Homo sapiens: one gene and its partners. The protein of the gene in region 4 interacts with the protein of the main gene of each other region in a pairwise test. Each region holds a gene or a part of one and is shown on either strand. Other genes may lie near its edges.

Region 1 (7,026 bases), on a different chromosome or scaffold from region 4:
AAGGGAAACATACTCCACACTAGCTAATGAAGCCCCTTCTTTTATGCTTTTATCTTCCAGATATTTGGGTTCTTGGTCTGGACCATGGTAGCCGCCACCCACATAGTATACCCCTTGCTGCAAGGATGGGTGATGTATGTCTCGCTCACCTCGTTTCTCATCTCCTTGATGTTCCTGTTGTCTTACTTGTTTGGATTTTACAAAAGATTTGAATCCTGGAGAGTTCTGGTAAGAACCAGCAGCATGGCTCTTCCTGGGTGGACGTTCTGGGTTGGGTGAGGACAATTGGCCTTTCTGGGCAGGGAGGGATCCTGGGCTAGGCTCCTATGGAACCAAGACTTTTTATCTTACCATTTTTACTACCACGCTAAAATGAAGACATTTATCTGCAAGCGTAAATAATTCCTGGTATTCCCCTTCACTGGCTTCCCTGTTAGGAGAATACACAATGACCTGTGATCAAGCATATTCTGATGTGTTTCCCCTAAATTTTCTTCCTGGTAAAATCCTTGGAGCAACACTGAAGAAAAAGCTAGTAGGAAAAAAATCACTCCATTCTCAAGGCCCTAACACAATCCCTGCGACAGGGTATTTCTTCCATATCCCACATGAATTATATGCAAAGTATATATACATATATACGTATATACATATGTATATATGTATATATATGTATATATATACTTTAATTGTACTCTACAAATAATTTTGGATGTAGATGCTTTCATTTAATATTACATCACTAATTTTTATTTATCACGTCATCTCAAAAAACCATTTAAAACTGTTCCACACTGAACAATTGAAGACATATTTAAAAGTACAGAATATTGTATTATAGGCCCTCATGTAGCCATAACCCAGATTCCAGCATTATCAAGACCTTACCACATTTGTTTCATCTAGCCTTTGTCCCCACTAAGGAATTTTAAAGCAAACACCAAACATCATGCCATTCTATTCCACACACTTCAGTATGTTTCCAAAAAAACTCCGCAAACTTTCTCACATTATCACATGTATACGAAGTAAACAATTCCTCAGCATACCTAAGACAGTATACAGTGGTCCCCCATCTCCGGAGGATAAGTCCCAAGACCCCTAGGGGATGCCTGAATCCTCAGAGAGTACTGAACTCCGAATTTGCTATGCATGCACTTCTTTTTTCTTCTTCACAATTTCACAGATAGACAATTCATTCTTACTGTAGATCTTAACAACCTCAGCATATTTTTTTTCTTTCCTTATTAAGCTGAAAACTTATACTTTTTAACTTAAAGAAAGCACCCTATGACTTCTCTTTGGCATATCCAAATTGCCAGCATCACTACTCTTGCAATTTGGGGCCATTATGAAGTAAAATAAGGATTCTTTGAATGCAAGCACTGCAGTGCCACAACAGTTGATCTGATAGCCCAGATGAGTACAAAGCGACTAACATGGGTGGCACAGACAGTGTAGACATGCTAGACAAATGTCTGATTCACATCCCAGGTGGAACAGGGCGGGACAGTGCAAGATTTCATCATTGTACTCAGAAAGGCACACATTTAATTGTTAATTTCTGGAATTTTTCATTTAATATTTCAGACCAAGATTGACTTTGCGTAACTGAAATATACTGATCTTTATTAGTCTGCCATTGCTTACGACATAGATATTACATTAAAAACACTGTGTATTAGTCTATTCTCACATTGCTATAAACAACCAGAGACTGGGTAAATTATAAAGAAAAGAGGTTGAATTGACTAGTTCCTCATGGTTAGGGAGGCCTCAGGAAACTTACAATCATGGTGGAAGGTGAAGGCTAAGCAAGGCATGCCTTGCATGGCAGCAGGAGAGATGGGGGAGGGGGAAGTGCCATACTTTTAAACCATCAGATCCCATGAGAACTCATTCACTATCATGAGAACAGCATAGGGGAAACTGCCCCCATGATCCAATCACCTCCCACCAGGTCCCTCCCTTGATACATGTGGATTACAATAGGAGATGAGATTTGGGTGGGGACAAAGAGCCAAACCATATCATTATACCACTGGCCCCTCCCAAATCTCATCCTTCTCACATTTAAAAATACAATCATGCCTTCTCAACAGTCCCCCAAAGTTTCAACTTATTCCAGCATTAACCCAAAAGTTTAAGTCCAAAGTCTCATCTAAGACAAGAGAAGTCTCTTCTGCCTATGAGCCTGTAAAATCAAAAAGCAAGTTAGTTACTTCCAAGACACAATAAGGGTACAGGCATTGGGTAAATGCTCCCATTCCAAATGGGAGAAATTGGTCAAAACAAAGGGGCTACAGGCCCCATGCAAGTCCTAAACCCAGCTGGGCAGCCATTAAATGTCGACATTCCAAAATCTCCTTTGACTTCATGTCTCAGATTCAAGTCACCCTGTTACAAAGGGTGGGCACCCAAGACCTTGGGCAGCTCCACCTCTGTGGCTCTTCACAGTACAGCCCCTGCAGCTGCTTTCACAAACTGGCATTGAGTGTCTGTGCTTTTTCAAGGTGACCAGTGCAAACTGTCAGTGAACCTACCATTCTGGGGTCTACAGGACAGCTCTTCTCACAGCTGTACTAGCCAGTGTCACAGTGGGGACTCTCTGTGGGGGGTCTGACCCCACATGTCCCTTCTGCACTGCCCTAGTAGAGGTTCTTCATAAGGGCTCCACCCCTGCAGCAGACTCTGCCTGTACATCCAGTCATTTCCATACATCCTCTGAAATCATGGCAGAGGTTCCTAAACCTCAATTCTTGCCTTCTGCATGCCTGTAGGTCCAACACCATGTGTAAGCTGCCAAGGCTTGAGGCTTACACACTCTGAAGCAATGGCCCAAGCTGTACCTTGGCCCCCAGCTGCTGGAGCTGGGGCAGCCGGGTTGCAGAGTGCTGTGTTCCAGGACTGTGCAGAGCAACAGGGCCCTGAGCCTGGCCCACAAAACCATTTTTCCCTCCTAGGTCTCTGAGCCTGTGATGGGAGGGGCTACTGTGAAGATCTCTGAAATGCCCTGGAGATATCGTCCCCTTTGTCTTGGGGACCCTCATTACTCATGAAAATTTCTGCAGCTGACAGCTTGAATTTCTCCCCAGAAAATATGTTTTTCTTTTCTAACACATGATCAGGCTGCAAATTTTCCAAACTTTTATGTTCTGCTTCCCTTTTAAACATAAGTTCCAATTTTGGACCATCTCTTTGTGAATGCATATGATTGTACACTTTCAGGAAAAGTCAGGTCACATCTTGAATGCTTCAATGCTTAGAAATTTCTTCTGCCAGATACCCCAAATCATCTCTTTTAAGTTCAGAGTGCCACAGATCTCTAGGACAGGGGTAAAATGCCACCAGTCTCTTTGCTAAAGCATAGCAAGAGTGACCTTTATTCCAGTTCCCAATAAGTTCCTCATCTCCATCTGAGACCACCTCAGCCTGGATTTCATTGTCCATATCACCATCAGCATTTTGGTCAGAATCATTCAACAAGTCTCTAGAAAGTTCCAAACTTTCCTACATCTTCCTGTCTTCTTCTGGGTACCCCAAACTGTTCCAACCTTTGCCCATTATCCAGTTCCAAAGTTGCTTCCACATTTTCAGGTATCTTTATAGCAGTGCCTGACTCCTGGTACCAATTTTCTGTATTAGTCTGTTCTCACACTGCTGTAAAGAACTACCTGAGGCTGGGTAATTTATAAGGAAAAGAGGTTTAATTGGCTCACAGTTCTGCATGGCTAGGGAGGTCTCAGGAATCTTACAATCATGGTGGAAGGCGAAGGGGAAGCAAGGCACACCTTACATGGCAGCAGGAGTGAGAGAGGGAAGTGTCACACTTTTAAACCATCAGATCTTATGAGAACTCCCTCACTATCACGAGAACAGCATGGGGAAACTGCCCCCATAATCCAGTCATCTCCCACCAGGTCCCTCCCCCAACATGTGGGGATTACAATTCGAGATGAGATTTGGGCAGGGACACAGAGCCAAACCAAATCACACTGCAAAAAAAAAAAAAAAAGGCAGGACTCTAGGGGGCTGGCCTGCCTCATTTGCTCATTCTTTACTGCTATGTAGCCAGAGAGGAAAATGTTCACCTGATTGATGTGGCCATGCGTGGCTCTGCTCTGCATTTCCAGGACAGCCTGTACCACGGGACCACTGGCATCCTGTACATGAGCGCTGCCGTCCTACAAGTACATGCCACGATTGTTTCTGAGAAACTGCTGGACCCAAGAATTTACTACATTAATTCGGCAGCCTCGGTGAGTGGGCTGGCCAAGGACAGCAGTCTTGCCTGGAGGATGTTTCGTGCAGGAGGCCTAACTTTGCTTGTGCTGTATAGACCCTGAGCCCTCAAGTGGAAGGAGCCATGGGGGCAGGGGATAGGGATGTGTGTCCCTGTAAACATGTGCACCCACGTTCAGGGGTCCTCTTTTACCTTCTATTGTTCCCACTCCAGCTTTCCTCTCTCTTAGACACCCCCCACGCTGTCTGCAGAATTTTCTTTTTCCAAAACACAAATTGGAACAGATGTCTCTCTCCTACTGAAAATCCTTCAATGGCACCCACTGCCTTTGGAATGGGGCCCGCATCCCTCGGCATGGCTGAACTATTGAGAGATGAAGCAGGGAAGGGGAAAGTGGAATGTCGAGGTCTCAGGGGAGGAGGCATCAGGGAAGGCCCTGTCAAGAGGACAGAAGGAGGCAGGGGCCACCAGGCAGTTACCCCTGCTAAGGTCCCACCAGGCAGTTACCCCTGCCAAGGACCCTCTGTGTGCTCAAGGGCAGCCAGGAGGGTGGTGTAGCTGGGACAGCTGGCCATGGAGGATTGCAGGGGCCGTTGCTGGTCTTGCAAGTTTAGGAAGTTAAACTCACCTGATGAGGAGGGAAGGGAGGCAGACAGGCCAGAAGGCAGCTGAAATATCTTGTGGCCACCCCAGAGGGTCACAGTGCACTCCACAGTGGGTGGCATTTACCTCCATCTAACCCATGTATGTGCTACTCATCTATCTTGCTGCTATCTGCTTCTTATCTCTCAAATGTAAGCTCCATGAGGGCAGGAATTTTTGAATATTTTCTTCACTGTTATACCCACAGTTGCTCTTGAAGGAAAGCAGGTCCTTAAAAGATATTTGTTGACTGACTGACTGAATGAGGAGCGTGTGAGTGGACAGTGGGGCAGAGTGGGGCTGGGATGTTTGGCAGGGCCTGAAAGGTATTGAAGGTGACGGCCCTACCCTGAGAAAAGAGCAGAGCCATCATACAGCTTCAACGTGGGGCAACGGGATTGTGTTCTCCCCATGAGTGAGAAGTGTCCTCACTTGTCCACTTCTGCCTGCCCTGCCCAAATGGTGGAGCAGATTCGAGGGGCAGGGCAGGAAGAAGTGGACAAGTGAGGCCATGAGGAGTCCTGCCGAGGGATGCCGGTGGCTGAGACAAGGGAAAAATGAATGTCCCAAGAGCTAGGCAGGGAAATCAGTAGCCTTTGGGGTGGCTTTGCATATGGCTGGCAAGGGAGGCAGGAGGAGCCAGGGGCCACAGGGGTCAGGCTCAGGGAGTGGGGCGAGAGGAGGACCCTGGGGCCCACTGGGCTTGTCAGGCTTGTGAGGAAACGTCAGGGGCTCAGTGTGAGCCAGGAAGAGCTGGAGGATGTCTGAACATTCACGAGGAGCTGATAAGCAGCCGCTCAGGGCAGAGTTCTGGGCCAGCGAGGGGAGCTGTAGGAGTGTTCAGAACACAGATTTGCTGGAGGTGGGCAGAGGAGAGCGGGCCTCGGGCAGGAGGTCAGCGTGGGATATGGGCCCAGAGCTGTGGTGGAGGTGAGCCTGCTTCACAGCCAGGTGCAGATGAGGTGGAGACTGCAGTCGGGGCAGGACACCAGGACGGCCCCAGGGAGGCCCTGATGGAGAGTTTCCAGAAGAGGGAGTTGTTGGCCAGGGGTTGCTGCCCTCAGGCCACGCAGGAGGCGAGGAGGCAGGGTCATGCGTGGCCTCCTGGGCAGTGGGGCTGAGGGTACCTGAGGGGTGGGCAGGAGCTGGCGCTGCTGTCTCTAACAGTCACTCTCCACCTCCTTCCAGTTCTTCGCCTTCATCGCCACGCTGCTCTACATTCTCCATGCCTTCAGCATCTATTACCACTGATGCACAGGCGCCAGGCCAAGGGGGAAATGCTCTTTGAAAGCTCCAATTATTGGTCCCCAAAAGCAGCTTCCAACGTTTGCCATCTGGATGACAAACGGAAGATCCACTAAAACGTCCACGGGATTAACAGAACGTCCTTGCAGACTGAGCGATGACACCACACTTTGTTTGGACATTTAAATTCACTCTGCTGAATAGGAGGAAGCTTTTCTTTTTCCTGGGAAAACAACTGTCTCTTGGAATTATCTGACCATGAACTTGCTCTTCTAGACAACTCACATCAAAGCCCTCACTCCACTAATGGAGAATCCTAGCCCCACTAATGCCAAGTCTGTTTGGGGATTTTGCCTCAGCTATGGGCTTCCCTAGAGTAGGTCTAGGGGAATACTCAGTCTGATCTTTTTTTTGTTTGTTTTATTTTGTTTTTTTTGAGACGGAGTCTCGCTCTTCCTCCAAGGCTGGAGTGCAGTGACGCGATCTCCACTCACTGCAGGCTCCGCCTCCCGGGTTCCCGCCATTCTCCTGCCTCAGCCTCCCGAGTAGCCGGGACTACAGGCGCCCACCACCGTGCCCGGCTAATTTAGTTGTATTTTTAGTAGAGATGGGGTTTCACCGTATTAGCCAGGATGGTCTCGATCTCCTGACCTCGTGATCCGCCCGCCTCGGCCTCCCAAAGTGCTGGGATTACAGGCGTGAGCCACCGCGCCCGGCCTGATTCTCTTAAAATTGAAGAGGTGCTGCCAAGGCCTTCAGATCTAACGCAGATGCATAGACCTTGTTCCTGGTACTTGTTCAGCCTGTGCTGGGGAGCCGTGGTCCCGAGTTCCCTGGGAGGCTGACAGGGTCAAGCCACCCTGCCCACCACCCTCCCACTTCCCCTCCCCTTTCCT
Region 2 (7,026 bases), on a different chromosome or scaffold from region 4:
TTTCACAGCAAGACAATTTCTGTGATGGGATTTGAACCAGGTGGTCTGATCGTAAAGTACTGTAATCCCACTGGCAAGAGGGACAGGTGTGATGATTCATGCATATGCCAGGAGAGAAAGCACCTACAACATAGTTCCAAAAGGCCAGAACTGCTGCAGTGGTTTCTCCTCTTTTTATTTCCACTCAAGCTATTGAATGATAGTGAGGCTCAAATAGAGGCTTAATGCATAGGAGCCACAGACCGAATATTTATACAGTTCCCCACCTTTTAAAAACAAATACACTTCATTCTCTTTTGCAAGGTAATATAAGTAATGTTAAAGCCGTCTTACCAAGATTGTCCTTTGTAAATTAGAGTTAACACTACTGAACATCAATTTACCAACTATTGTAGCAATAGTAGGAAAGACAAGGGCTCCACACAAGATTCGAGTAGCAGAGACATGATCTGCTAAAGGATTGGCCTCAGCTGGAATTCGAGGAACAGGACAACCTATCCCTAGAGGAAAAAAATGCAGTGCGTTAGTGCTAATAAATCAGAAGAGTTAGACTACCTTCAAACATGGCTAAAAAAGCATGTTATTGTTCTTCAAGATCAATTTGGTATGCACTTTACAACCACAGTTCAGTGCCTTACCTGGAAATATACTATTTAAAATTTGTAGTTTATTCGAGTATTTGCGCCACAGTCTAAGCACATAGTCCTCCCAGCGAATCATCTTGCCTAATATCAGCATGACAGGAATAGTAGGAAGTCCAATTAAAAGGAATAAAGGATCAGCTCTCTCCATAACATCCAGACCTTCTTTATGACCTACAACCTGTGAAACAGATAGCATATATTAGAATTACTTCTTTTTCAAATGAGGTGTTGCATGTTAAGCTCTATTTTTTTAATAGAAAATGCTTAATTTCAAAAGAATACACAGAAATAAAAAGTTTAAAAAATAAGCTGGAAAGCTATCAGTCCTGATTTATTTATAAGAAATGTCTCATTCAAGGGAAAAACAAAGTTCCCAAGCCATTTCATACCACACAGGAATAAAAATTAAAATGGCTGACCCAGACTGATTACATTACAATAGAGGGGCGGGGACCTCTGATTGTTGCTTCTATTCCTTTATTTGATTTGGTTAGACTGGGCTACGGAACTGGGATATAATTCTAAGTCCTATTTGTCTTCCAGCAAAACAACTGTTTTCCTGATCTTCCTTCTAGGAGATTAAGCATAGCCAGCCAAGAGGTAGGACCGGCCTTCAAGAGATGGCCTGAAAGCTCATTTCTCTTTGGCTCTTTCTCCTTACTTAGTGGTGTGTAAGATAGGGTGTGATGTCTCTGGCTGGCTAAGTGTCTACCCTACAGACCTAACCCTCCTTAAGTGCACTTCCAAGGTCTAGAATTGAGGGACTGTAGTAGGAGGTCCAGTTTTGGTTACAGATCCCAGGCATTTTTCCCAATTCAGGAACTCTAGGGTACCCTATCTATGGGGGTAATGAAGCTAATACAATCTTTTCCTTACCCTATCCTAGTCTTGGGGCTATTTCTAAATTGGTGTAGATCCCAGAAGGCGAGAAATACAAAATTGGCATTTGTGAACTTCTACCTTTTCCCTCTCTCCAAAATCCTTTTCACTTCCACATCAATCTTGGCCTTAAATTTACCTCTTTTTGTTGTTGTTTTTGAGATGGAGTCTCGCTGTGTTGCCCAGGCTGGAGTGCAGTGGTGTGATCTTGGCTCACTGCAACCTCCGGCTCCTGGATTCAAGCGATTCTTCTGCCTTAGCCTCCCGAGTAGCTGGGATTACAGGGGCATGCCACCATGCCCAGCTAATTTGTGTATTTTTAGTAGAGACGAGGTTTCATCATGTTGGCCAGGTTGGTCTCGAACTCCTGACCTCAGGTGATCAGCCTGCCTCGGCCTCTCAAAGTGCTGGGATTACAGGCGCGAGCCACCGTGCCTGGCCAAAAATTTTTTTTTTTTTTTTGAGACGGAATTTTTTGCTCTTGTTGCCCAGGCTGGAGTGCAATGGCACGATCTTGGCTCACTGCAACCTCTGCCTCCCAGGTTCAAGCAATTCTCCTGCCTCAGCCTTTCGAGTAGCTGGGATTACAGGTGTGCACCTCCACGCCCAGCTAATTTTTGTATTTTTAGTAGAGACGGGGTTTCTCCACATTGGTCAGGCTGATCTCGAACTCCTGACCTCAGGTGATCCACCCGCCTCGGCCTCCGACAGTGCTGGGATTACAGGCGTGAGCCACTGCGCCCGGCCCCAGAAATGTTTTATGAAAGTGTGTGGAGAGGACCAAATTTGAGCTATGGATATAGTCCAGATTTCCACTTGGTTAATTTATCTAATTAAGATGTAATATTAAAGGGCAGGAGGCTAGCCTCTTCCTAATGGTCAATAATGTCATCGAATTTGATATTCTTCTGTGTCTCCAGGTAGAACTTAACAACTTCCTATCTTGCATGTGGAAGGTGATCCTTTTGAGTTGCCCTAAAGTGAAATGGTCTGGTTTATGATATTTCATAAACCCCAATTCCATAATGGTAGCAAAAGTTAGCTGGCCATGACTGTTTTACCTATAATGATTTCCCAGGAAATTTCTTTATCTATCTATCTATCTATCTATCTATATATCTATCATCTATCTATCTATCTATCTATCTATCTATCTATCTATCTATCTATCTATCTATCTATCTGAGACGGAGTTTCAGTCTTGGCATGATCTTGGCTCACTGCAACCTCCACCTCCTGAGTTCAAGCTATTCTTCTGCCTCAACCTCCTGAGTAGATGGGATTACAGGCACATGGCACAACACCTGGCTACTTTTTTGTATTTTTAGTAGAAATGGGGTTTCACCACGTTAGCCAGGTTGGTCTCGAATTCCTGACCTCAGGTGATCCGCCTGCCTTGGCCCCCCAAAGTGCTGGGATTATAGGCGTGACCCACCACGCCCGGCCAGGAAATTCCTTTAAAGAAAAAAAAAGACAGGGTCTTGCTACGTTTCCCAGGTTGGCTTTGTACTCCTGGGCTCAAGCAATCTTCCCACCTCACCCTCCTGAGTAGCTGGAACTACAGATGAGTGCCACCACGTCTGGCTAAGAAATTCTATTTTTATATCATTAAAAATTTCAATATAATGATCACTCTAACATTATAACTAAATATGATTAAATATTCTCAAAGTGTTAGCAAATAAATTCAGAATATTTGAAAAAATCCTTTGTCGGGTTATGTGTCCTTTTTTTGGGTTTAGAAATATAAAGAAGAGTGAATATTCAGGTATAGACTAGAGCGAACAAGAGGAAGTTTGTTTCTCATGGGTAGCAGTAAAAACCTTATAAGGTGTTTAAGAATAAGGAAACAAAAAGGAAGTAGGGGTTGGGCACTGTGACTCACAATTGTAATCCTAGCACTTTGGGAGGCTGAGGCAGGCGGATCACCTGAGGTCAGGAGTTTGAGACCAGCCTGACCAACATGGTGGAACCCCGTTTCTATTAAAAATACAAGCCAGGCGTGGTGGTGGTCATCTGTAATCCCAACTACTCGGGAGGCTGAAGCAGGAGAATCGCTTGAACCCAAGAGGTGGAGGTTGCAGTGAGCCGAGATTGCACCAGCCTGAGCAACAAGAGTGAAACTCCATCTCAAAAAAAAAAAAAAAAAAAAAAAGAAGGAAATAGGGCAAAGAATGAGCAAAGGCCCAGTATTTCACTTGTTACAACTAAAGTGAAGAGAGATGCCCCATGCTCAAGCAAGTTAGAAGTGGGATGAGGCTCATCATTCACACATGCATTCATTCATTCACTGAATAATGATTTTGTGCTGGGGCTAAAATGGCAGGTTAAACAGATGTCTTTTGAAAGTGAGAGAAAATCAAACCAAACAAGTGTGCAAATATATACACTGTGAAGAAATAAGGTAGTATAACACCTGCAGTACACCACTTGCTAAAACAGTCATACTCAGGGGCAATAAATGAAAGGTGATTAAGCAATAGGCCTGATTTAATTTTGGCCAATACAAAGTCAGTGAACCTGTGTGTAATCACATACATTCTGCTTTCTTGTCCCAAGATTTAAAAACATTATTTTTAAGACTTCGATTTTGGGGTAAGCTCCAGGAATTATATAGAATGTCTAAGAATTTGTTATCTATGTATAAAATAAAGGCCTGGCTGGGCACAGTGGCTCACGCCTGTAATCCAAGCACTTTGGGAGGCTGAGGTAGGTGGGTAACTTGAGTCTAGGAGTTTGAGACTGGGCAACATGGTGAAACCCTGTCTCTACAAAAAATACAAAAATTAGCAGGGCGTGGTGGCATGTGTATGTAGTCCCAGCTGTGCAGGAGGCTGAGGTGGGAGGATCACCTGAGCCCAGGGAGTTCGAGGATGCAGTGAGCCGTGACTGCGCCACTGCATTCCAGCCTGGGTAACAGAATGAGACTCTGTCTCAAAAAAAAAAAAAAGAAAAAAAAAAAAGAGAAAAACAAAAGACCTATAGAATTGCAGGTTTAGAGAAAAATAATTTTTTGTTTTTCCTGCAGAAGGGCTAAAAGCTAGATTTTCATATCTAGGTAGGCCTGCAGTTCATTGCTGCTGAAAGGCTAACAGTTTTAATTAAGGTCTGAGCTTTTAAATTATTATTAGAATTCTACATTAATTAATTAGAGACAGAGTCTTGCTCTGTCGCCCAGGCTGGAGTGCAATCTTGGCTCACTACAACCTCTGCCTCCCAGGTTCAAGCGATTCTCACGCCTCAGCATCCGGAGTAGCTGGGAATACAGCCACTATGCCTAATTTTTTCTTTGTATTTTTGGTAGAGATGGGGTTTCATCATGTTGACCAGGCTGGTCTCCAACTCCTGGCCTCAAGGGTTCTGCCTGCCTCAGCTTCCCAACGTGCTGGGATTACAGGCATGAGCTACAGCACCTGGCCAGAATCCTAACAAGAGGATGAAACAGTGATGAAATAACAGGGTTTTTTTTTTTTTAACTCAGAATCAAGGATAAGTAAGTACTGTAATTAAGAATGGGCAATGCTAATGGGGGCTGTCTTTGCACTAGAGGCAAAAATGGGAACTAGGCTAAACATATTAAGGTTCCACTGTTCCAGGATAAAATGTTCCAGCTGCCTCTGGGACCAGGCTTCACTTAAGGAGCCAAGGGACAGGAGTCCTAATGCTTCTCTGCTGTGTGGCACTGGACCTGTAAACTCTCTAAACCAGTAAACTAGGAATAATTTATAACAATAATCTATGTCATAAAATTGTTGCAAGGGTTAAATGCATCAGTGCTAGGTGTTCAATACAGTGCCGAGAAAAAAAAATTATTGTGTTGTCTTTTCAATAAAAATGCAAGAGGAAGGTCCTATTCAAGTTCCCCACAACTAAAAAGTATTGATTCTATGACAGGTCCATGGAGAAGGAAAGAAAATAAATGGGAAAATAACAGTGATCTGATTCCTTGATTTGGTTTACTTGTACTGCAGGGTTGTTAAGGAATCAGAGAAAAACAATCAAGTGTTAGAAGGCAAACCCTAAATACTACTGATGGTGTAGAGGGGCACATTCTCTATCATATGTGCTCAGGAAGGTAAAAGTCATCTTCCCAATACTCTTAAATCACACAACACTATCCACCTACTGTCATAGCTAGTCTCATTTCTGGGCTAAAAAAAAAAAATCTTTTCAAGTGAGACATTACATGTGAAGGTTATTTCTAAATGGTAACACATATGTGTACTATAGTTTTTGCTTCCTTGCTTATTTCATTCTACCAATTCAAATTATTTCCTTTAAGGGTTAGCTCAAGACTTTTCTCATAATTTCAAATCAAATTATCTTTCACTTTTACTGAATTAAAATATTGTTTATATAGTCTTCTGCCCTCTTATCACATTTATCTATCTAACCTGTAACTGTTCTCCAGTGGTTTCATTTATGAACGTCTTGTCTTGGACTATATCCCTTGATGCTGGGGATCAGAGTTTTCAATTTATTTGTGTTTTAACAAGTGCCCCATTAATTATCAAAATTCTTTTAACATTGTGCCAGCCTAAAAATCTTTCTTAAAAAAGAGCCATCTCACTTCTTATGGTCAATAAAGTCTTAAGAAAATAACTCAATCTCATTTGCAAAATATATATATCTATATAATGTATTTGTACATTAAATAATGTATAATCTGCTCTAAGTTTCTATGTCTTTCTCAGTCTTAGTAAATCATCCTGATCCTCCCTCCTCAGGTGATGTACTAATACTCATTATTTGAAGTGGTCACATAAAAAACATAAAGACTGCCGGGTGCAGTGGCTCACACCTGTAATCCCAGCACTTTGGGAAGCAGAGGCAGGCAGATCATCTAAGGTCAGGAGTTCCAGACCAGCCTGACCAACATGGTGAAACCCCATCTCTACTAAAAAGACAAAATTAGCTGGGCGTGGTGGCACATGCCTGTAATCCCAGCTACTCGGGAGGCTGAGGCAGGAGAATCGCTTGAACCCGGAAAGCGGAGGTTGCGGTGAGCTGAGATCACGCCACCGTACTCCAGCCTGGACAACAAGAGCGAAACTCTGTCTCAAACAAAAAAACAAAAAACAAAACCACAAAGATTTATGAAACCCTTTAATGTGTTAGTTTCTATGTAGATGCTGTAACAGGGAATACAGAAGCATAAAATGGACTCTGCTTTCAAGGAAATTACCTCCTAACAGGAAAAATAAGGCCTAAAAACAAGAAAAGTTAAACAGATAATCTATATAAGAAATGTCACTTCATCAGGGCAGGACTAGCTGCCATTTGAGGAATAAAAATGTCATGAATGTGGGGGAAGAAGGAATCACAGCAGGCAGGAGTTGCCTGTAAGTTCTATGGAGGAAAGCTAGCTAAGCCTGGAAGGAGGGTTTAGATTTGGATAAGTACACAGAAGACTAGAAGGGCAGGTATTAGGTTGGGAAGGTGACGTAAGCCAAAGGACAGAGGTGAAAAACTACACAACATAAGGATGGGTTGGAGGAGACAG
Region 3 (7,028 bases), on a different chromosome or scaffold from region 4:
ACATGAATTGTACCTCAATAAGGCTGCTGCAAACAGAAAAGAAACAAAACAAAGACAGTAATCAGAAGTTTCCAGGGAGCCAGGCTTGGTGTAGGGGCCACAGGATGACCCTCTGCATGGCCTTACCTGATATTCACATAGCACCTAGACCTGAATCCCCTTTTCCTTCTCTGTGCCTTTCTCTTTCCTACTCTTCCCCACCTACCTTCTGTAGTTTATCCTCCTAGAACCCTCTGGTCACTTTGCTGAGTTGGGCTGGATTTGGATGAGCTGGATCCTGAGCGTTGGAAATTCTGTGTCCTGCCTCCTCTGATCACTGGAGTCAGACCAGGGACTGATGAAGGAAGAGGGACTCCCCCTCACAGCTGCTGCTGCTTCTCTTCCTCCCACGACCTCATTACCCACCACCCTGGGAGGAGGGTATCTCAGCTTCACCAACTAGCAGGCATTTGCTAGCTCTAACCCCTTGGGGTTTATTTATAGGCCAAACAGACTCAACAGGTAGCAGACTCTCTGCCCCTTTACTGGGACTTCGCTACTCTGGCTCAGTCTGGAATTCTCTGCAGGATTCTTGTTTTCTCTCTGATCCTACCACTCATTCCCCAGGGTCATGGGTGGGGCAGTCTTCTTCCCTGAGAGGAGTTTTGTGTGGTCAAGCCCTGGACACTCAAATGCCTGACTCTTGAGGGTTGGAGGGGCATACTCTGGTGTCAGGCAGCATTGATTCCAAGCAGAAATGTGAGGTTATTAATGTTTGTCCTCTACATACCCATTCTGAATGGCTCTCTTCTTTGTTTTTCCTTACTTCTTCTTCTCGGATAAGGGTGGGAGTGGGCATAGGGGGTGGTCCCTTGACTTCTTCCCTGCCACTTTCTTTATTTAAAGACTTAAAAGAAAGGGTCTGAGAGACCCATGTCTATTGTTATAAATGACTGAATGGAGGAGACGCAGGATTATGTGCATGTGAACTCCATGTCTAGAACCTACACTCACAGCATCCCTGAGCCACAGCCCCTGGCTATTCTGCCATGGATTGCAGTGGAGAACCCTGGCTCTTGGAGTCACACTGCGTGGACTCATGTCCTGGCTCTGTCACCTACAACCTGTGTGTGTTTTTAGATAAGCTATTAAACATCTCTAAGCCCCAGTCTCCTCATTTATAAAATGGGGCTAGGACCTGCCTTGTAGGTTATAAGGATTAAATGACAAAATGCAGGCCATGCACCTGGCATGGAGCACACAATAAATGTTACCTTTTAATAATAAAGACATAAAGTATTCCTATTAGGTTGGTGCAAAAGTAATTGCGAATATTATCCTTGTTATGCCGATGTTGGATATTGAAGACTTGGTGCTGTAAGACAAAGGCTCCAAGCTAAACTAGCACTTCTAGGACCAAGAATGCCTTCTCTCATCCTCTCAACCCTCTCTCTCTTTGACAGAGTATATTGTTTACCAGATTGAGGGGATGCTGGCCCCAGGCTGAAGTCACATTTACTTCTGACCTCTGGGTTTGGGCTATAAGGAGAAAGGCTTCTCTGTGGTCTGGACATAATTGCCATCCCAATTACACCAAGCCGAAAGGTAAGGAAGAGATGGGGTCTGCCTGTGTCACACATAAGGTGTGAGGTCCCCTCCCTGTTTGGCTCAGCTTCCCCACAGGTTTTGTAGTGGAGGCAGAACATTGAGAATCCTCCTACCTTCTTGCCGCGAAGAGGAAAGGGCTGTGGGGGAGAAGACAGTGCCTGAGATGAGGTCTCTCTGGGCTCTCCACCCAGGCCACCAACCTTAGTCCACTGAAACACACAGCTGCTCTGCTCTCTGCTTCCTTGGGGCAGACATGGAGCCTTCTTACCCAAGAAAGGAGCTGCAGTGGAAATGGCTCCTTAGAGAGGGGAGTGTTCCCAGATGCCTTGGCTACCACACCTGCTAGGATTTGGTGCAGCATGCTGCATAGAACCCTACCCAGGTTTCTGGGATATCTGGACCCTACTGACTTGCTTGAAAACAAGAAGGTATGTGGGACGGCTGACAGGGGTAGGCTGCTAAAGAAAAGGGAACTGGTCCCTGTAGGGTTCAAAGAAAGATCACTTGGCCACTGCCCAGGCTTTCTGGCATCTCTCAGGTTCCCCCCTGGCAGCATGACTGGGCTCACTTAGAGCTTGGAGGAAGAAGGTTTACTGGCTGGGAAGGCTCAGCCTGGTCTCTCAGGCTGCAGAGAGAGAACAGGGCATGGCTCCTCACCTGACTGTGGCTTGACATGCCTTTCTGAGTCTCGCTTTTACTTCCTGGCCATGTTTGTAATGGAGACAATGAATGGCTTCCTGCATGGGTTGGCCTTCCTGGCCCAGAGCTCTCAGTGTGAACTGAGGGGAGAGGGGCCTGCGCTTAAGCTGCTGGGAAGGCAGTCTTGTGTTCAGGGATCCCTGCTTTGAAGAAAACTGTAAAAGGTCATTTAATTCATGCCCATATCACTGGGTAGCCTGAACTCTAAGTCGTTTGACTCACTCCTAATCTAATGTAATCTAATCTACTGGAACAGAGGAGTGGTGCAAGCTGTACCCTGTGCCATGGCTAGCGCCACAGGAAACCAATACAGGATACTTTCTTGGTTACCCAAACCCCTGACACCCTTAAACTATGCCACCCACTCTCCACCCAGGGGAGCTGGGATGGTAGAGCATCTTCTGCCCTACCCCGAAGTTGGAGTTCCCAAACCTGGACACAAAAGCATCCTCCTTCTCAGTTACCTCCTAGTCCCAGGCTCCAACTCAAGCCACTCGGGAAAGCATTCCAGTCCTGGGCAGATCTTGGCTCTGGTCTCAGATGGAGCAAGACAGCAGATGGGTAAAGCACACGCTTTCAATCCATAGGTCTGGGCCCCATTAACACGTCCCTTCTTGGTACCGTCTTTCTTTTTGCACAGCAGCCTTGCTGAAACAGGAAACAGACAAAGCCACAAGGTTCGCAAACCCCAGTTCCTCTCTCTTGCTCTCTGGTATCATCTAAGTGGGCCCCTGAACTCTGAGGCCTCCAGGGCTGGGCTCAGGAGCTCCTCCCATCAGTAGGCACCCCGGCCACCCTTTCTCTTGCTACTGGATTGGTCGGAGCTCTTGGACAGTTTCAAGTCAAGATTCCTTTCCATGATTAGAAAAGGATAGTCCTCTGGGTCAGATTCAGACCTTTGTGGTTTCTATGAGAGGGAAAAAAATGCCTTTTTGGTGGTAAGACCTAGATGAGATGTTCTCAGTGTAGGCTTTCATGTGTATCAGGTAGTTCTTTGTGTAAGGATTTTCCTTTTTCTTTAGCCACCTCTTCCCAATCCTGGTGTTGTAAAGAGTTTCTGCTCTTCTGAAGTAGGTGGTGTCTTTCTCAGATTCTGGAATGAGACCAACTCTGGATTTGCTCCTTTCTGGAGCAATGAGGAGGGAGTGTAAAGGTGGGTAGCTGGGGGATGAAGGAAGGAATAGAAGGCAGAGTCTTCTACACATTTTTTTATCTGGTCAACCGGACTAGGAAATTTAGGGAAAAACTAAAGGGAACTGATTTGCATGCATTAAGATGAAGCCATCACAAATGATGCAGCCAGGAAATTCCCAAGAAGTTCAGGCTAAAATAGTGGAGAGGAAACTGGATTGGGACAAGTTAACTGAGCAGCTTTGTAACCTTGTAAAATTCACCTTGTCTGGATGCTACTCACTGTGGTAGTTGGGTGATGTATGTGGCTCTTTGGAATTCTAAGGTTTGACACATGTGAGGCAGGTAATGAGACTTAAAAATAGCTGTGATAACATTTATTAACATGTGGAGAGTTTGTCACCATTTTCTCTGCTTCTGCTTCTTTCTCTGTTCTTTGAGGAGAAAAAGGACAAGGAATCGGCAGGGAAAAGCAGAGGATGGATTCTCAAGCACTAGGACTGAAGACAAGTGGCATTTACTCAGGATGAGAGACAACAGCTCAAGGCCCTGTGTCTGGAGCTTGACACATAGAGATGGGAATGAGTAGAGGACAGAGGGCTTGGGGAGCCCAAGATGTCAGAAAAAGAGAATTTTGGCCGGGCACAGTGGCTCACACCTGTAATCCCAGCACTTTGGGAGGTCCAGGTGGGTGGATCACTTGAGGTCAAGAGTTCAAGACTAGCCTGGCCAACATGGTGAAACCCCATCTCTACCAAAAATATAAAAAATTAGCCGGATGTCATGGCATGTGCCTGTAAACCCAGCTACTTGGGAGGCTGAGGCACAAGAATCGCTTGAACCTGGGAGGCAGAGGTTGCAGTGAGCCAAGAATGTGCCACTGCACTCTAGCCTGGGCGACAGAGTGAGACGGAGTTTCACTCTTGTTGCCTAAGCTGGAGTGCAATTGCGCGATCTCGGTTCACTGCAACCTCCGCCTCCCAGGTTCAAGCAATTCTCCTGCCTCAGCCTCCTGAGTAGCTGGGATTACAGGCATACGCCACCATGCCTGGATAATTTTTTGTATTTAGTAGAAATGGGGTTTCAACCATGTTAGTCAGGCTGGACTCAAACTACTGACCTCAGGTGATCCACCTGCCTCGGCCTCCCAAAGTGCTGCGATCACAGGCATGAGCCACCACGCCTGGCCAGAGAATTTTTATTGGCATAGAAGAGTGAGAAGATTCTGGGAGTTCAGGGCATTAGAGCGTAAAGAAAGACAGGAGATTTTAATAGGAGTTCCTATAGAGACCTACTATTTGGACTCCATTAAACATCAGAAAGAAATGTCTACAAAGTCCGCAGTCATTGGGATACTAATCCCATGATAACTGGGATTTAGAGTGGTCAATGATATGCTCAAGATCACACAGAAAGTGTTGGACCCAGGTTTGCTTGACAGTAGGTTTGAGCCCTTAACATTGTGTTCTGAGAACAAAACAATTAATAAGGTTGTCATACCTATCTATCTATATTGAAAAAGACACACACACACACACAGAACTTTGAGAATAGAAAATATACCTTATTTTCAAATGCCCACGAGACATTAAAAAAATTGACCATATGGATCAAAAAGTAAACCTCAGTATATGTTTTGAAAAGTTGATCTATTATGGCAGGATTTTCTGACCACAGTACAATACAATTGAAATAAATAACAAAAGATGGAAGAAAGAAACACTTTAACTTCTTGGAAAAAAATTCTTCCCATTTACTCTGAAAAGATAGAGGGAATTTCAAATCTGCAATTAAGAATGCATTGAAAACGGTGATAGTGGCAACATTATGAGGAAAATCTGTGAGGTATGGCCAAGCAGAATGCAAGGAAAATTCCTAGCTTTAAACATTTTCATTACCTAAATCAAGAAGATTAAAAATAAATTTCCTATTCATTTATTTTCAAATGAATTGCTAAAAAATGATCAGAAAAAAAGGAGGTGAGAATTTTGAAATGATAAAAGGAGAATATATAATAAGTTAGAATCCTGTTTAAAATTGATAAAAAAAATTCAGTTTTGTGTGTGCATCTGGCAGGGGGAGGAATGGTAGACATACAAATAGAAAACAAAATCAATAAAATAAAATATCAGCGAGCCAAATCAATTTAAAAAAGAGAAAAGACATTATAAAAGTTTAGGAATGATACATGGAAAGTAGCCACGATACGGTGGAAATTAATTATAGAGAGTCATTTGTGTAACTATGCTAATGATTTTTAAAATCTAGATAAAATGGATTTAAGAAAATGAATTTACCAAATTAAGCTCAAGTAGAGATTTGTAGTGTAATCATCAGCTGGCCTCCAATAGAGGGTTTAATTCAGGCTGCTCTTGAGCTGGGCACCAGGCTTTTAGTGGCCAGTATCCTTTGCTTCTCCTCATCATTTCCAGGTTCAATGGGAACAACGGCTCCCTTTTTTGATGGTCATATTCTGAAACAGTTTCCTTGATAGATGCTGGGCCCTGTGTAGTCCCCCATGAGGCGATGAGTATGGGGTAAGCTACCCTTTCCTTTATAGCCTGGTTGCTTCACAATACCACACAAGCATGTGTAAGATTATCAGATTTTATTGTACAGTTGGGGTAACTAAACTATATGCTAATATGACTTCTCCCATACTCCAAGAGACAGCACTAAGGAGTTAAAAAAATTTTTTTTTTCTTGAGATGGAGTTTCGCTCTGTTGCCCAAGCTGGAGTGCAGTGGCATGATCTCAGCTCACTGCAACCTCTGCCTCCCGGGTGCCTCAGCCTCTGGAGTAGCTGGGATTATAGGCATGCACCACCACGTCTGGCTAATTTTTTGTATTTTTAGTAGAGACGGGGTTTTGCAATGTTGGCCCGGCTGGTCTCGAACTCCTGACCTTAAGTGATCCACCTGCCTTAGCCTCCCAAAGTACTAGGATTACAGGCATGAGCCACCATGAAGTTAAACACTTTATGGGGGTCCCCTCATGGGTGTTACCAGTTCTAATCCCACTCCTCTTTCCACTCTACAGGGTGACTCCTACCTATCTTCTGGGAAATGGCAACCTCATTCATAAGAGTTGTTCTTGCCTTAGAATCCTTCCCTACACTCCTGACAAGGTTTCTTCAGCACCGCATTCCTCAAGTCTAAGTTATTCATTCTAGAATAGTGCTGCAGACACTCTTAATAGGATAGTCCACAGCGGCCTTGGCACTCCAAATTTTGCAGAACAGCTCAGGGCAGGCATACTTAAGTCTGTTCGCATTCAAGTTCAAGTTCTCCTTATCAGGTGACTTGCAGACTCTCCTCCTTAGTTTTCCAAGTGTCTAGCTGGTAACTGTTTACTCAGATGTCCACACAAACATCCCAAAGACAAATATTCATTCTCAGAGATGATACAGTCTAAACTCACCAGGAGGAAGACAAGTATTTCCTTGACTCCTACGTTTGCAAGGTTGCTGCTCTGTCGAGTTATGACTGTACATTTGTGGCAGGACAGAGTTCTAAGTCCTCCTCTTGTCTTTGCTTGCTTTGTATCATCATTGTTGGTAGAGAGCCTTTTCGTGTAATGAAACCTCAAATTTATGCTGTAAGAGACTTTCA
Region 4 (7,356 bases):
TCTCCAGGTAAGTATGAAATAATATAAAGATATCAGAGGGGGCAGGGGAGACAGTCTGAAGCATTCTTGAAAAATTAAGCCTTTCTTTGATTATGATCTTGATACTTAAATATCCTATTATTTAAAAGCAAGAACACAAAATATCTGAATTTTTCCAATCCGTCTATACAGTTGGTTTAATATAGACACAATTCTCCTCCTTTCTTTATCTCTCTCTTACCTTCCTAATTTATTTGCCCCATGTTCCTTTTTCCTGCTCAAATACCCTATTCTCTGAACCTCAGTTTGTCAATCTTTGTTGCTCTATTTTAAAAGTTATCAATCAGCCCACATCCCCCTACAGGAAAAATGTGGTTAAAAATGGCCTAGTCCAGTAAAAGAAGATAGCCACTTGGAATTTGGGTTTCTTTTATTGAACCAAAGTGAAATCTAGCTATTAAGCAGCCATCCAAGCAAAAATGCAGGACACTTTCACCGTCCCTCCACCTCTAGTCGACAACCTGGCCACTATGGACAATATGAGACCAAACTTCTCCGTCTTTGATAGGTCCTTTAGAATGAAGTAACTCACTAAAGAAGGACAGCTTCCCATAAAAAAAAATATTTAGATTTAATTACAACTTAAAGGCACTTATTTTTTACTTGGGAATAGGGACACACAGTGTACAACATGGATGAGCCTTGAGGACATTACACTCAGCGAAATAAGCCAATCATAAAAAGACAAGTACTGTATGATTCCACTTATCTGAGGTACCTAGAGGAGTTAAATTTATAGAGAAAGAATGTAGGATGGGATTTTCCAGGGGCTGGGGCACAGGAGAATGGGAAGTTAGTGTCTAATGGGTATGGAGTTTCAGTTTTGCCAAATGAAAAGAGTTCTGAAGATTGCATGCACAGCAATGTAAATCTTAATACTACTGATTTGTACACTTAAAAATAGAATGGCAAATTTTATGTTATGTGTATTTACCGCAGTTAAAAATTAAAAAAAAAAGGTTGACTATCTATTGGGAGTTTTTCATAGGCTTGTAGTCTTAGGGTTAGGAGAGGTAATTAGAAGTCACTTAGCCTAATGTTTCTCAAACTTTTTTGACTGAAGCTCACAAAAGGTGCTACATTTTATATTATGATCCAGTATGTATTTGTCATGATATGGACATATACACACATATATGATTACAGATACAGACATATATGTACATTTGTACACACAAATATACACATAACTGATATGTAACTAAAGACAGCATAGGAAGCATTAATTATCCCATTACATGAGATGTGCTCTAATTATTTTCTACTCTTATTCCATTTTATTAAAACAAAATACCATTTACAATCCATAAGTTGATTTCACAATGTACTAATGGGTCTCAGCCTTCAGTTAAAACACTAACCTAGACCAATCCCTAACATAATGCAAAAATCTCCTCTAAAGCCTCCCTGCTGGGTGGCCATCCAACTTCTGCTTGAATGCCTTCAGTGACAGGGAACTCACTCCCTACAGGGCAGCATGCTCTATGGTAGTCCCATCTAGCACTTGCAGATCCTGCTCACTCCAGAGCTGTTCCAGGAGTGGCCTGGGTGGAGCTGAGAATGCCAGGAGGGCTGGGACCAGCTGACAGGTGCTCAGTGGTTTCCAAGAGGGGTGAAAGTACAGCTCCTAGCAGCAAAGCGGAGGGTTGGGGTGAGCCAGAGACTAGGGCAGCATTGCTGGGAGACTCTGGCTTCCTTCTGTGGAGCTGCAGATCAGACCTTTTCCCCTCTGCCTTCTCACTGCTCCAGCACTATGATTATTTCCTCATCTGAAGGATGATCTCATTCCCCTAGCACCCGCCTGTGGGAGAGGTTTCCTCCCCCTGGGAGGCGGGGGCTCAGCCTCAGGTGGAGACAGATTCCCTCATATTCCCTCTCAACCTCCCACCCATCCCTCGAGCCTCAGCAGGCCACCTCTGGCCATCCCACCTTGTATTCTCTTGGTCTTAAGACAGGGGGTATCCCTTCCCAGGGCATTCAGATAAGGGTGCCTGAACATTCCTGACCTCTCCCTCCGACCCCCATACAAACACACACACACACACACACACACACACACACACACACACACAGCATTCTGGAGACCTGCTCATGTTCAGGACAACAAGACTCCACCACACCTGATTGTGTCTTCCTGGGAGAAATAAAACAAAGACAGCACCGCCACGTGGGGACAGCTGACTGCTGGACATCAAAACCCTGGGTCCCAGGATGAGAAATGAATGATGCCTAAACTCCTGGCAAGTGTGGTGGGCTGAATAAGGAGGGGGACTGGCCAGGGCCCCAGTCAAGGACCAGGGCGTGGCAGTTCTGGGTGTCTGCAGTTTTCAGCTTTGGAGCCAGCCACCTCTGGCCAGGTAGGATTAGGCTGACCTCAGGGTGGGGCGGGGCCAAGAGGAGGTGATGATCTCATTGCATCCTTAGAACCAAGAGAAAAAAGTAACCCGTGCATAGAGCCGAAGGAAAAGATGTGTGATCAAAATGGGAATGGGAGACAAGAAAAGCTGTGTCTGAGGAAGAAAAGGTAAAAACACAGGAGAGCTTCCCACTTGAAAGGGATCTTCAGGTCACAGCCAGCTGCAGGGGCAGCCAGACTCAGCACAAAACCTTTCTCCTTAAGCAACAAAACATTTTTATGCAGAAATAGCTCACCATAGCATCTGACAATTCCCACCCATCCTGCCTCTCCTGAGCTCTGGAATAAAAGTGGCACCCGGAGCCCACCCTCACCCCTTGGCCGAGCGCCATTCTTTCTGCCTCACCCCCTTTCCCCCAAGATCTGACAAAGTTTAAATGATTGAGTAGAACCAAAGGTGACACAATAGGTGCTAGGCCCCTCGCTTCTCCCCACTGTAGCTGCTGTCTTGTTTTTTCTTTTGCCTGAAAAGCCTCAAATTAGTTGCATTTTATTTCTACTTACGTGCAGTCCAGTTAGAAGCGAGCTGCTCTCTTCCTCACTCCCTCAATTAGTGGTACCCTGGGCTTCTCTCAACATCAGCACCACTGCTCGCTCTTGCCATGACATCACCTCCAAGCTCTGTGATTGGCCAGCAGTGGGTTGCTTGGCAATTGGACAGTCTCCTCTGGTGGAGCAGGGATTGCCTGAGTGAGTAACTCTTAGCAGGCCAGGGAGTGAAAGATGATGTCAGACAAAGAGCCTGCTTTCTCTGCTGCCTGTGGAGCTGGAGAACCAGAGGGGTGAGGGCGGAGAGGAAGAAAGAAAGAGGGAGTGGTACAGAGAAGGTTGGGGAGAAGCCACAGCTTGCGAGCTGGGGGTATAATGAATGATTTCCAGGATCTTTAGGTCCTTTAAATTTGGGGGTGAGAGAATATGGAATCCAGAGAAGAAATAAAAAAGAACAGATGAACCCTAAAAATAGCTTCCTGGAGGGCTTGGTGCCTGTTTCCAGCTCTGTCAGAAGGGCTGGTGGGTTTGAACGATGACTCAGAAGGCGGGGGGTTGCGGGGACTGCAAAAACCCCAGGATTGGGAGCTGATGAGGGCCCTGCACTGGAGTCTCTGGAGAATAAGGCTTCCCTCTGGCCACCTTTGCAAAGGTATCAGCCACATCTCTGCTGACACTAGTGGGTCCTCACTGCCCCTCCCATCCAGCCCTCCTGGGCCTTCCAGAGGGAGCCACAGGTAGGAAGATGGACTGGTCATTACACTGGTGATTCCCAAATATGGTGGATTTTTTAAAATTTTCAGTAAGTTTTTGGGAAACAGGTGGTGTTTGGTTACATGAATAAGTTCTTTAGTGGTGATTTCTGAGATTTTGGTGCACCATCACCCGAGCAGTGTACGCTGTCCCCAGTGAGTAGTCTTTTATCCCTCACTCTCCTCCCACTCTTTCCCCCAAGTCTCCTAAGTCCCTTGTATCATTCTTATGCCTTCGCGCCCTCCTAGCTTAGCTCCCACTTATGAGTGAGAACATATGATGTTTGGTTTTCCATTCCTGAGTTACTTCACTTAGAATAATGGTCTCCAATTCCACCCAGGTTGCTGCAAATGCCATTATTTCATTGCTTTTTATGGCTGAGTAGTATTCCACGGTGTGTGTGTGTGTGTGTGTGTGTGTGTGTGTGTGTGTGTGTATTACATTTTCTTTATCCACTTGTTAATTGGTGGGCATTTGGGCTGGTTCTATATTTTTGCAATTGCGAATCATGCTGCTATAAGCATGCATGTGCAAGTATCTTTTTTGTACAATAACTTCTTTTTCTCTGGGTAGATACCCAGGAGTAGGATTGGTGGATCAAATGGTAGATTTACTTTTAGTTCTTTAAAAATTTTTCACACTGTTTTCCATAGTGACTGTACTAGTTTACATTTCCATATGGTGGAATCTTGAGGGGGGGTGACGGGTCAGCGATGGTGGCTTCTGTAGTTCCCTCAGGGAATGAGGGAGCCACTAACATAACCTTCACAGGCTGCTGCCCTCAGCCAGTGAGCTGGAGAGGGCAGGGTGAGGCAGGAGAGGAGCCAGGCAGCTGTGGAGCGAGACCCCCTCCTCCAGAACACCTCTCCAGATTAAATCCCCCCAAGATGTGTCCATCATCCCCACATTCCACCGTCCAGCCTTGCCTCATGTGTTCTTCTTGGTGGGGAGGGGTAATTTTTTTTCTTTTTTTTTTGAGACAGAGTCTCGCTCTGTCACCCAGGGTGGAGTGCAATGGCGTGATCTCGGCTCACTGCAACCTCCACCTCCCGAATTCAAGAGATTCTCCCGCCTCAGCCTCCTGAGTCACTGGAACTACAGGCACGCACCACCACACCTGGCTAATTTTTGTATTTTTAGTAGAGATGGGGTTTCACCATATTGGTCAGTCTGGACTTGAACTCCTGACCTCGTGATCTGCCTGCCTCAGCCTCCCAAAGTGCTGGGATTATAGGCATGAGCCACCACGCCCAGCCGGGGAGGGGTAATTTTATTGAGGCTGAACATGTCCAACATAACGCTCACCATTTTCACTATTTTGAAGTGTATAGCTCACTGGCCTCAAGTGCACACGCATTGCTGTGTAGCCATCACAGCTTTCCATCTCCAGAACTTTGGCATGTTCCCCAATATTCATATGTAACCAGTAAGCAATAACACTCCTTTCCAGCTAACCCCAAACTACTTTCTGTCTCTATGAATTTGCCTATTCTAGGCACCTCGTATCAGTGAAATCAAATAGTATTGTCCTTTTGTATCTGGCTTCATTCTCTTGGCATGTCTTCAAGGAGCATCCATGTTGTAGCATGTGTGATAATTCCATCACCTTGCTCCTCCCTCCTTTTTTTTTTTTTTTTTTTTTTACAAAGTCTTGCTTTGTCATTGAGGCTGGAGTGCAGTGATGTGATCATGGCTTACTGCAACCTCTGCCTCCCAGACTCAAGTGATACTCCCACCTCAGCCTCCCCAGTAGCTGGGACTACAGGCATGTGCCACCACACCCAGCTAATTTTTTATAGAATCAGGTTTTCACCATGTTGCCCAGGCTGGTCTCAAACTCCTGGGCTCCCACCTGCCTTGGCCTCCCAAAGTGCTGGGATTATAGGCATGAACCACCACGCCTGGCACCTCACCCTATTTTAGGAGGGTTTGTTCACCCTCTACCACCAAACCCCTATTGACTGAGAACACGAATAATGACAAAAGTTGCCTTGAATTCAGCCCATGCTTTGAAGTTATTATTTTTAAACTACAGTAGCATCAATGAGCATTTGAAAATCATAGTTAATGCATGGATGTCACATGTTCACCCTGCAGACTGTGCTGGGGATTAAGTAGATTCTCAAGCCCTGGCATGAACCCCTGACCTGCACCCCACTGCCAGGACCTGCAAGCTGGCATCTCACCACAGCACCCCGTGTGGTTCTCCAGGAGGCCCCATGTAGACACACATCTCCAAGCCCCCACTTCACATCCAGAGGGGAGGGCTCCAGTTAGGCTGCCAGCCCCTGGCCAAGCGGTGGCCAGGATGAGGAATGAGCCCTGACAGCCTTTGGGGTTTTCAAAGCACACCAGAGCTGAATCTATGGTGTAATCCTTTCAGCAGGGCTGCAAGGACGGCAGGACGAACACTGTGCTGTTTGACATTCAGTGAGTATCACTGAACAACACACTTATCATTCATGCCACATGCCACCAACCCAGGACCCTCAGCCATCAAGCTGAGCCTTTTCAGTGGGAATCAGGACAACTAAGGATATCAGAAAGTCATTCCCTCAACATGTGGAGACAGGAGAGGCCACACTGCATACCAGGCTGGAATTTGGAGTCCAAGCAAACCCCAAATGCATGGCTATCCTAGCTGTGAAGGGGGCCTCTCTGTCCTCCCCTAGTATCTTCCCTCCCAGCCCTGAGAAGTCTGGAACTCCACAAATCTGCTGGCTCTGGAAAGTGAGGGATGGGGAGAGAAGGCAGTAGGTTGCCATGGTGATGGCAGCCAATCAGAGATCCTCTGCTGCTAGGGGAGGAGCAAGTTCGGTCTGAGTCCCCCTCACTGACTGTGAAGGAGGGTGGAGCTGGAACAGGGGGAGAAAGAGACAGGACATCACTGCCTGACAGCAGAGACCAAGGTCGGGGAGAAGGGTCATGGGGAGGGTGGCTCTATTTCTAGGATTACCTAGTTTCCATTTGGTACTAGGTTGTGATGGTTACACACACACACACACACACACACTCAGTACATCTCACAACTGCCCTGTGAGAAAGGGATTACCCACCCCATTTATAAAAGAAACAGACTCCAATAGGAAAGGTAACCTCAAACAGCCTACCTGTTATGCAGCGAGGCCTGGATTTGAACTCTGGGGAACGGGATGCGGGAGACACTGGCGAGAGAGTGAGTAAGGTAAGCAGGGTAGAGCCACGGCCCCAAAGACCTACTGGGTGGGAGAGTCCCTGGGACTTCCCTGAGATGGCATAAAGCAATATGTTGATAAAACAAGAAACACAGAAATGGTAAGAAAATGTACCAAACACCAAGTCCATAGAACAAAGGGCGAGGAGAGACCAAAATCAGAAAAGAAATCAGCAAGGTCAAAACTAGGAGGCTCAGAAGGACAGGATGGCGATCAGGGAGCAGGTGGAGGGGAAGGCGAGGTGGGCGCTCTGTTCCTCACACCGCAATATGGAAAGCCCCTGTGAGCCTTGTTGAGAAATGTGGGCTGGCCCTGGACCTGCCAAGTCAACTTTGGGTTAGACCTGTTGCTTGTGATCAATCTACCCAAATGCTGGACTTTAGCCAAAGGGGCATGGGGCCCACAACGCCCCTCTGCAGACACCACCTCTCACAGCCCAAGTTGCACTACAGCAACAATACTAGG

The links.
Region 1: the proteins of STMN4 (region 4) and MALL interact in binary tests that used the Homo sapiens proteins (3 or more experiments, as listed by UniProt).
Region 2: the proteins of STMN4 (region 4) and MARCHF5 interact in binary tests that used the Homo sapiens proteins (3 or more experiments, as listed by UniProt).
Region 3: the proteins of STMN4 (region 4) and TRAF3IP3 interact in binary tests that used the Homo sapiens proteins (3 or more experiments, as listed by UniProt).

Annotation. Positions count from the first base shown.
Region 1 is NC_000002.12:110,084,805-110,091,830, reverse strand, and holds part of MALL (MAL-like protein), read left to right. Parts: intron 1-60; coding exon 61-228; intron 229-4,133; coding exon 4,134-4,259; intron 4,260-5,307; exon of another isoform or gene 5,308-5,398; intron 5,399-6,073; coding exon 6,074-6,136; 3' UTR 6,137-7,026.
Region 2 is NC_000010.11:92,343,145-92,350,170, reverse strand, and holds part of MARCHF5 (E3 ubiquitin-protein ligase MARCHF5), read right to left. Parts: intron 823-7,026; coding exon 639-822; intron 501-638; coding exon 334-500; intron 1-333. UniProt on the Homo sapiens protein: Mitochondrial E3 ubiquitin-protein ligase that plays a crucial role in the control of mitochondrial morphology by acting as a positive regulator of mitochondrial fission and as an important regulator of immune response.
Region 3 is NC_000001.11:209,752,032-209,759,059, reverse strand, and holds the start of TRAF3IP3 (TRAF3-interacting JNK-activating modulator), read right to left. Parts: upstream 3,008-7,028; 5' UTR 2,751-3,007; intron 563-2,750; exon of another isoform or gene 206-562; intron 27-205; 5' UTR 1-26. UniProt on the Homo sapiens protein: Adapter protein that plays essential roles in both innate and adaptive immunity. Plays a crucial role in the regulation of thymocyte development.
Region 4 is NC_000008.11:27,255,392-27,262,747, forward strand, and holds the start of STMN4 (stathmin-4), read right to left. Parts: upstream 3,014-7,356; 5' UTR 2,960-3,013; intron 1-2,959. UniProt on the Homo sapiens protein: Exhibits microtubule-destabilizing activity.